Homo sapiens: one gene and its partner. The protein of the gene in region 1 interacts with the protein of each later gene in a biochemical or structural test. Each region holds a gene or a part of one and is shown on either strand. Other genes may lie near its edges.

What was found. The genes of interacting proteins can lie anywhere in the genome.
Region 2: the proteins of BCL9 (region 1) and USP9X form a complex in vitro, tested with the Homo sapiens proteins (one study listed by BioGRID).

Annotation. Positions count from the first base shown.
Region 1 is NC_000001.11:147,618,001-147,621,500, reverse strand, and holds part of BCL9 (B-cell CLL/lymphoma 9 protein), read right to left. Parts: intron 2,686-3,500; coding exon 444-2,685; intron 1-443. UniProt on the Homo sapiens protein: Involved in signal transduction through the Wnt pathway. Promotes beta-catenin's transcriptional activity.
Region 2 is NC_000023.11:41,091,945-41,095,444, forward strand, and holds part of USP9X (ubiquitin carboxyl-terminal hydrolase 9X), read left to right. Parts: intron 1-3,500.

The sequences.
Region 1 (3,500 bases):
GTCAACAGGTATTTACAAGAACCACACAAGTCTTACAGCAGCTTCCCCTCTCTCTGCTTAGGATTATACCCAGAATCTCGATTCAAGGGCAGCCCCTTGCAGTGGGTCCAGTATTTAAAGAAGCCACATTCATCCACTGTTAAGACATTTTATTGCATTTGTTCATTGTGCGAATGTAAATTATTCTGTGAACCCAACACATATTCCCCATTTCCCCTCTTCCTTTTAACAGTCTCTCTGACATACGTATTTTTTGCTGAGATTGGACACTTCTGCATAACCCCATGGAAGCACTGATTATGCACCTTGCCACAAATATGGCCATTTCAACAAAGACTGCCTCCTCTGTCTGTGTACTCAAGACACCAGTTTTCTTAAAGTAACTATCAGGTCTAGCAGTCTCCAGCTACTAGGTGCAACTGTGAGGATGCAAGCATACTGACCTGACTCTACATTTCCCAGCATGGCTGGGGAGGCCATGGTGAGGGGTGCTTTATGGTTTGGAGGGATCCCAGGACTCTGAAGGGGAGGTTTTGGAGAAGAGGTCCATCCAGGTGACGGGGCAGGAAGTGATGGAGACTTGAGGTGGACAGGTGAAGCAGCAGCAGACCCCAAAACAGGGGGGGACTTAATGGAAGCAGCAGCAGCTGGGCCCGCCAGCATGCCTGCCAGCTGCGATGGAGTCTGGGGGGACTTGAGGTTCCCCGAGGGCGAGCCCAGCATTGGTGACTGGACTTGGTGCATCGTGGGAGACTTCAGAGGGTTAATGCCTGGGGAATGCACCTGGCTGCCTGCCACAGATATATCCAAGGGCTTCCGCCCCAGGCCGCGCTGAACTGGAGGAGCTGTGTTGAGGCTGGTGGGGTTACTGGAAGGGTTGAGAGGTAGTGGTGGCATATGACTGAGCCGGCTGTTAGTCCTCTGGTCGGGCCCAATTGGTTCTCTGAGATTCCGCAAGCCACTGTTGCTGCCTGGACCCTGAGACATGGGAAGGAATGGTCTGGGGCCCATGCCATACTCCTGCTGGGGGTGCTCACCAAATGGCAGTGGCACCATCTTCTGCTGAGCAGGCAGCATGTCTGAGCCACCTGGGCGTAATTTCAGCATCTCCTCAGGGCCCGCCCCAGCCTCTCTCATCTTCTGAGGTATCATCTGAGAGTTGGATCCCATGTTGACATTTAGATTGACATCTCCCTTCATCCCACTAGGAACCATCCCAAACTCAAGTTCCCGACCAGGGCCCATCTGTGGGGGAATTCCTTTTGGAAAGTCACCCCTAGAAGGACTCAGAGGGCCCTCAACTGGTATTCGAGGGAAAATGGGGTTATTCCCAGGCTCCATGTGGCGCTGGGAGCCTGGAATCATCCTGTTCATCTCCATGCTGGGCCTGATGCCTTCCATGGCCATCCCTGGGGGGAGACCCAGCTGTTTCTCTGCCAGCTGCTGCTGAAACATCTCTTCAGACAATCCTTGGGGGTTTGGGAAGCGTTCCCCTCGGCCAGGACCGCTGAAAATGCCCTGGCCAGGAGGAAAATTTCGACCATCTGGGATTTTTGGCACATCATCTGGCCAACTGACTCCAGAAAGACCTGGTCTAGATGCAGGGTTGGGGACATTCGGCCCTTCCATTTCAGAGTTTATCATGCCTGCAAATCCAGGGAGGCGCATCTGGCTCCCTGGCATGTTGGGGTGGGGAGCCATGCCCCTCGGGGGCAGAGAATGTGGCATGTTGATACCATCAGAAAATGGCTCTGTACCCCCAGGTGCCCAGCCTTCACTAGGGGTCATCTGGTATGGAGGGGGGGGTCCTCGGACCACTCCCCGAGGCCCGTGCTGATGGACCATCATGTCCTGGAGGGAACACTGCTGGACAACCACTTGTTCCTGCTTCCTCCTCTTCTCTTCATAAAACTCCTGCTGCAGTTTCAGCCACGCTATCTGCTCGGGAGTCATATGGTCAAGGTGGTCGGGTCCTATGGTCCCAGACTGGGAGTTCATAGAAGGTGGAACCATTTCATCTGGAGAAAAGGGTACATCTCTATGTCCTTGAGGGCCAAATGGAGCTCCCACGTCTGTCCGGGGCCCAGGTCCCTTACCTAGGCTTTGGGATTGGGCCATCATGGCCTGTATTGGCCCTTCTGGTTTTTTCTGAGGCCCATCTAATACCCCAGGATTCTGCTGCGGTCCCCCACTTTGTGCTCCTGTGAATTCTTTCTCATCAGGAAAAAGCATGCGCTGGATATCTCTGAGAGTTTGTAAGGAGCGCTCCCGGTGCTCCAGCTGCTCCTGAGATAGGCCATCGGGATTCTCTCCCAGTGTGGGGGGCTCGCCACTGGACACTGGTGGAGGCGGAGGGGCTTTGGGATCTGCTGAAGAGCTATTGCTCCCCTGGGAGACAGGGGTCACTGCCCTATTGTTGGGAGTTGAGTTGGGCCCAGTACCATCTGGGGGCAGTGGAGTGGAGCTGGCAGGACTTCCTACAGAAGGAATCAGTTTGTTTTCTACCCCAGGACTCTCCCGGTCCAGGGGACGTGGGGGTGCGGCAGGCTTGGGTGCTGGTGCCGGAATGGGTGGAGTTGGCTGCAGTCTGGTATTCTGGGAAGAATTCTGGTCCTGGTTGGCCGGAGCTGGGGGCTGTTGTGGGAGAGGTTTCGGATCATTCCGAAGGGCAGATATCTGTGTGTTCTGAAGACAAACAAATAGTTTAAAAATCATTAGTAAACTGAACAGAAGGGCAATTAAAAGAGCAAGATATGTTATAAAGGAATTGTCCCCAGGCACATAAATCTAACTGACACTGGCTGTAGAAATTGCTCACGTACAACCCTCTTTTGGGCATGGAGACATTTTGATTTTTTTTTTTTTAAACTTACTGTCAAATGGTATCCTCTTTCCCTTGCTGAAGATTAGGTTTCAATAACTTTAAAAGTATGCCAGGGGAGAGCCACTCTGCCAAAGTGAATACATTTCAGTATCTATTTTGAGGAACAGGTTTGATATCACATGTCTACTATGTGTTTCTGATTCAGAGAGAGATTAGTTTCTTGGTATGTGGGAGGCTGTACCTAACACCTTTTTCTTTTCCCTGAAAGTATAACTGGGTATGTAGACTTCTCATTGTCAATCAAAAGGCCTGATGTTGCCATCTTGAGAGAGAAAGCGTAAGTCACTTGCAGCTCTGTATTCTACCAGCCGAGGAAGCAGCTGCTCCATTTCAACGTCTCCTCTGGCAGGGTGACTACTGAGGCACTCCCCTCCTGGAGTTTCCAGGAGGCCTGACATCTCTGGTTTCCGTTTTTGGTTGGTGATCACTGATTCCACATTTGATAAGAATTTGTACATTAACTGTAGTGAGATAATCTGCAGGCAGGAAGCTTCTGTGGAGAAATCTGAGGCTATCTAGCTCATGGTGTCTCTTGAACTGTTCTTTCCAATAGGCAGTAGACTGCCCTTTTTTAATATGCTGGATGATTGCCTTATTATTGTTTATTAAGTACCAC
Region 2 (3,500 bases), on another chromosome or scaffold:
CACCTAGAATAATACTGTTTATAATAACCATTTGATTACCTGAATGGGAAAATCTGGGGCAGTATTTAACTTGCAGTACCTCCAACCTCTTGTACAGAATTGATTCATCTTCATTTTATGGCACCCTACAGTTTATTCTTATTAATCATGTGAGCTTTGAACACCATGTTAGTCAACCATAATCAAAGGAATTGTTTTCCTTGGGATGAGTTTGAGCTGGTGATCGTGCATATTAGATCCCATCTTCTACAGAGCCTGTGAATTGGGTGGAAAGGAAAAAGGGAGTGGCGAAGCCTCCTGTTAGTATCCTTGATGTCCATTTTATTCCTGCTGACTTTGGTGGCTATTGAGAGTTATAAGTTGAGGCTGTTGGTTACATCTCTCATTTCTAGTCTTTTCTGTTAACTGGTTACTTAGAACTCCTAAGTAAGGCCGCTCATTATTAACTTGGACCCCAGAGAGCATGGAAGTTACCGTATAGTATTGAACCCATTTCTGCCTAACAGTGTTTTCTCTCTGGTCGAGGTGTAGTGTACAAAGTTTTGGTTGCTCTGCTTGGTAACATCTCTGGAGTTCAGAGCACAGGGATCAGTAAACTTTTTCTGTAAAGGGCCACATAGTAAATACTTTGGACTTTGTGGGCTAAGAGGCAAAATTGAGGACATTGGGTAAAATTTTTATTGGTGAAATAAAAAATATAATTAAATACAGTTATGTATAACTTAGGTCTAATGAGAAAAACAATTTGGTGTGTGTGTGTGGAGGGGAGGTAATACAGTATTTTGCTTTATTGGGTAAAGTTCAGTGTTCCCTGTCATCAAATTGATTGCAGACGTTCTGTGTGAAATCCATTCTTACCTTGTGAGCTGTACAAAAACAGGAGGCTGGAATTGGTCTGTTACCATAGTTTGCCAGCCCCTAGTTAAGAGCAGTGATTTTTTTTTTTAAGAGGAGGGGTCTCGCTGTCACTCAGGCTGGATTGTGGTGACGCAATCATAGCTCATTGTAGCCTGGAATTCCTGGGTTCAAGGCATCCTCGCACCTCAGCCTGCCGAGTAAGTAGGACCACAGGCCGACATCACCTCACCTGGTTAATTTTTGTTAGAGAACAGGGGTTTGACTGTGTTTCCCAGGCTGGTCTCAAACTCCTGGCCTCAAGCAATCCTCCTGTTTTGGCCTCCCAGTGTTGCTGGGATTATAGGCCTGAGCCACTGTGCTTGACCTCCTATTTGATACACTATATGTTAACAACTCTGAACCTCCTTTCCTTAAGTCAGGTTCAAACTTCTGTACATTAGCTGATGAAAGGGATTTCTTTTTATTGCAAGGTGGTATTGCCTGAGAATAGTTTGGTTTCAGCAGCTTTGCTGTATTTGTACGGCAGTATCTTGTGTTTATGTGCAAGTTCAGATGTATTTTGCCTTTTTATAAGAATGAGCAGAAAACAAAAAAGTAAATGGCGCGATCTCGGCTCACCACAACCTCCGCCTCCTGGGTTCAAGTGATTCTCCTGCCTCGGCCTCCTGAGTAGCTGGGATTACAGGCATGCGCCACCACACCCAGCTAATTTTGTATTTTTAATAGAGTTGGGGTTTCTCCATGTTGGTCAGGCTGTCTTGAACTCCCGACCTCAGGTGATCCGCCTGCCTCGGCTTCCCAAAGTGCTGGGATTACAGGCATGAGCCATCATGCCTGGCCTACCTGGAGGTCTTAAATATCCTTGAGACAGAGGGAACTGGTTAGGGATATGAATCTTAAACCTTACTGGATTAGGTTGTGCTCATTGGTTAGGTTAGTTGGCTTTGTGCAAATAGTGAATGCAATAATTAGAATGAAATAGGAATTAAGTGAGGCAAATGTATGATGAAGTTTACATTTGAAAGGTGAGGGTATAATTAGAAATAAAAGTTTCTGTACTCTGTGAGTGGGAAAAACCCCTAAAAAGGTGACTGTCGTTTTTGAAATTTTTGACTTCTCTCACATTTTCGGGAATGTGAAAGGAGGATACTGGCTATGTACAGCATTTGTCCAGACTTTTGAAAATATAGAAAATCTCATTTACTCATTTAATTAGTGTGTATATTATCTGTTTACTGTGTCCTTTGTAGATATAATTAATTATCCAGGATTCTTAAGAGTTGACTTGGAGCATGCTGAGCTGAGGCAAGAGGGATTGTGGGGCCAGACTGAGTGTTGGAGGAGGAACCTACTGTAGTGACTACAGGTGTATTTCTTTTTTCTTTTTTTTTGAAATGGAGTTTCACTCTTGTTGCCCAGGCTACAGTACAATGGCGTGATCTCGGCTCACTGCAACCTCCGCCTCCTGGGTTCAAGTGATTCTCCAGCCTCAACCTCCTGAGTAGCTGGGATTACAGGTGGGTGCCACTATACCCGGCTAATTTTGTATTTTTAGTAGAGATGGGGTTTCACCATGTTGGCCAGGCTGGTCTCGAACTCCTGACCTCAGGTGATCCACCTGCCTCATCCTCCCAGAGTGCTGGGATTACAGGTGTGAGCCACCGTGCCTGGTGTGTTTCTTGTCTGATGTCAGTGCATGTCGTTATCTGAGCCATATCAATGTCAGCTGAGGATTGCTTTGTTATCCTCGGTGCATTATGGGAAGGAGAATCATGTCAGTGCTACCTTACTGTGATTGAATTGAATTCATTGATTTAATATAGATTCAGTTAGTACGCCTTATCCATAATATTTGGGATCAGAAGTGTTTCCGATTTTGTAATTTTTTCCCCATATTTTGGAATATTTGGAATATTACTTGCGGGTGAGTGAAAATTCAAAATCCGAAATTTGGGGCCAGGCGCGGTGGCTCACCCCTGTAATCCCAGCACTTTGGGAGGCTGAGGCGGGCAGATCACTTGAGGTCAGGAGTTCGAGACCAGCCTGGCCAACATGGTGAGACCCCCGTCTCTACTAAAAATATGAAAATTAGCCAGGCATGGTGGTGTGCACCTGTAATCCCAGCTACTCAGGAGGCTGAGGCTGGAGAATCCCTTGAACCCAGGAGGTGGAGGTTGCAGTGAGCCCAGATCGCGGTACTGCACTCCGTCTAGCCTGGGTGACAGAGCGAGACTCCGTCTCAAAAAAAAAAAAAAAAGTTCAGATTTTGGAGCATTTTGGATTCCAGATTTTTCAGATAAGGGATGCTCAACCTGTGCCATTTTAGGCACCAGAGGGTATATAAAGATGATTCTCTGCTTTCAAGGCTCTGAAGTATGGTGAACCAGACAGTTATACAGTGCAATTACAGCTGTATTAAGTGGAGGTGTGAAAAGTGTAGTAGGAGAGATGGAGAAATCATTGTTTGGCATTGGGTGAGGTCTTCAAAGATGTCCTATTTTCATGGCCCTATTAATTAGAGCAGGGACTTCCGGTCAGAGGGATCAACTTGAGATCAGGCAGGGTTTTTTAACCCTATTGACAGTTTGGGGCAGATAAGTCTTTGTTGTGAGGTGCTGTCCTACTCAGCCCTGGCTTCTACC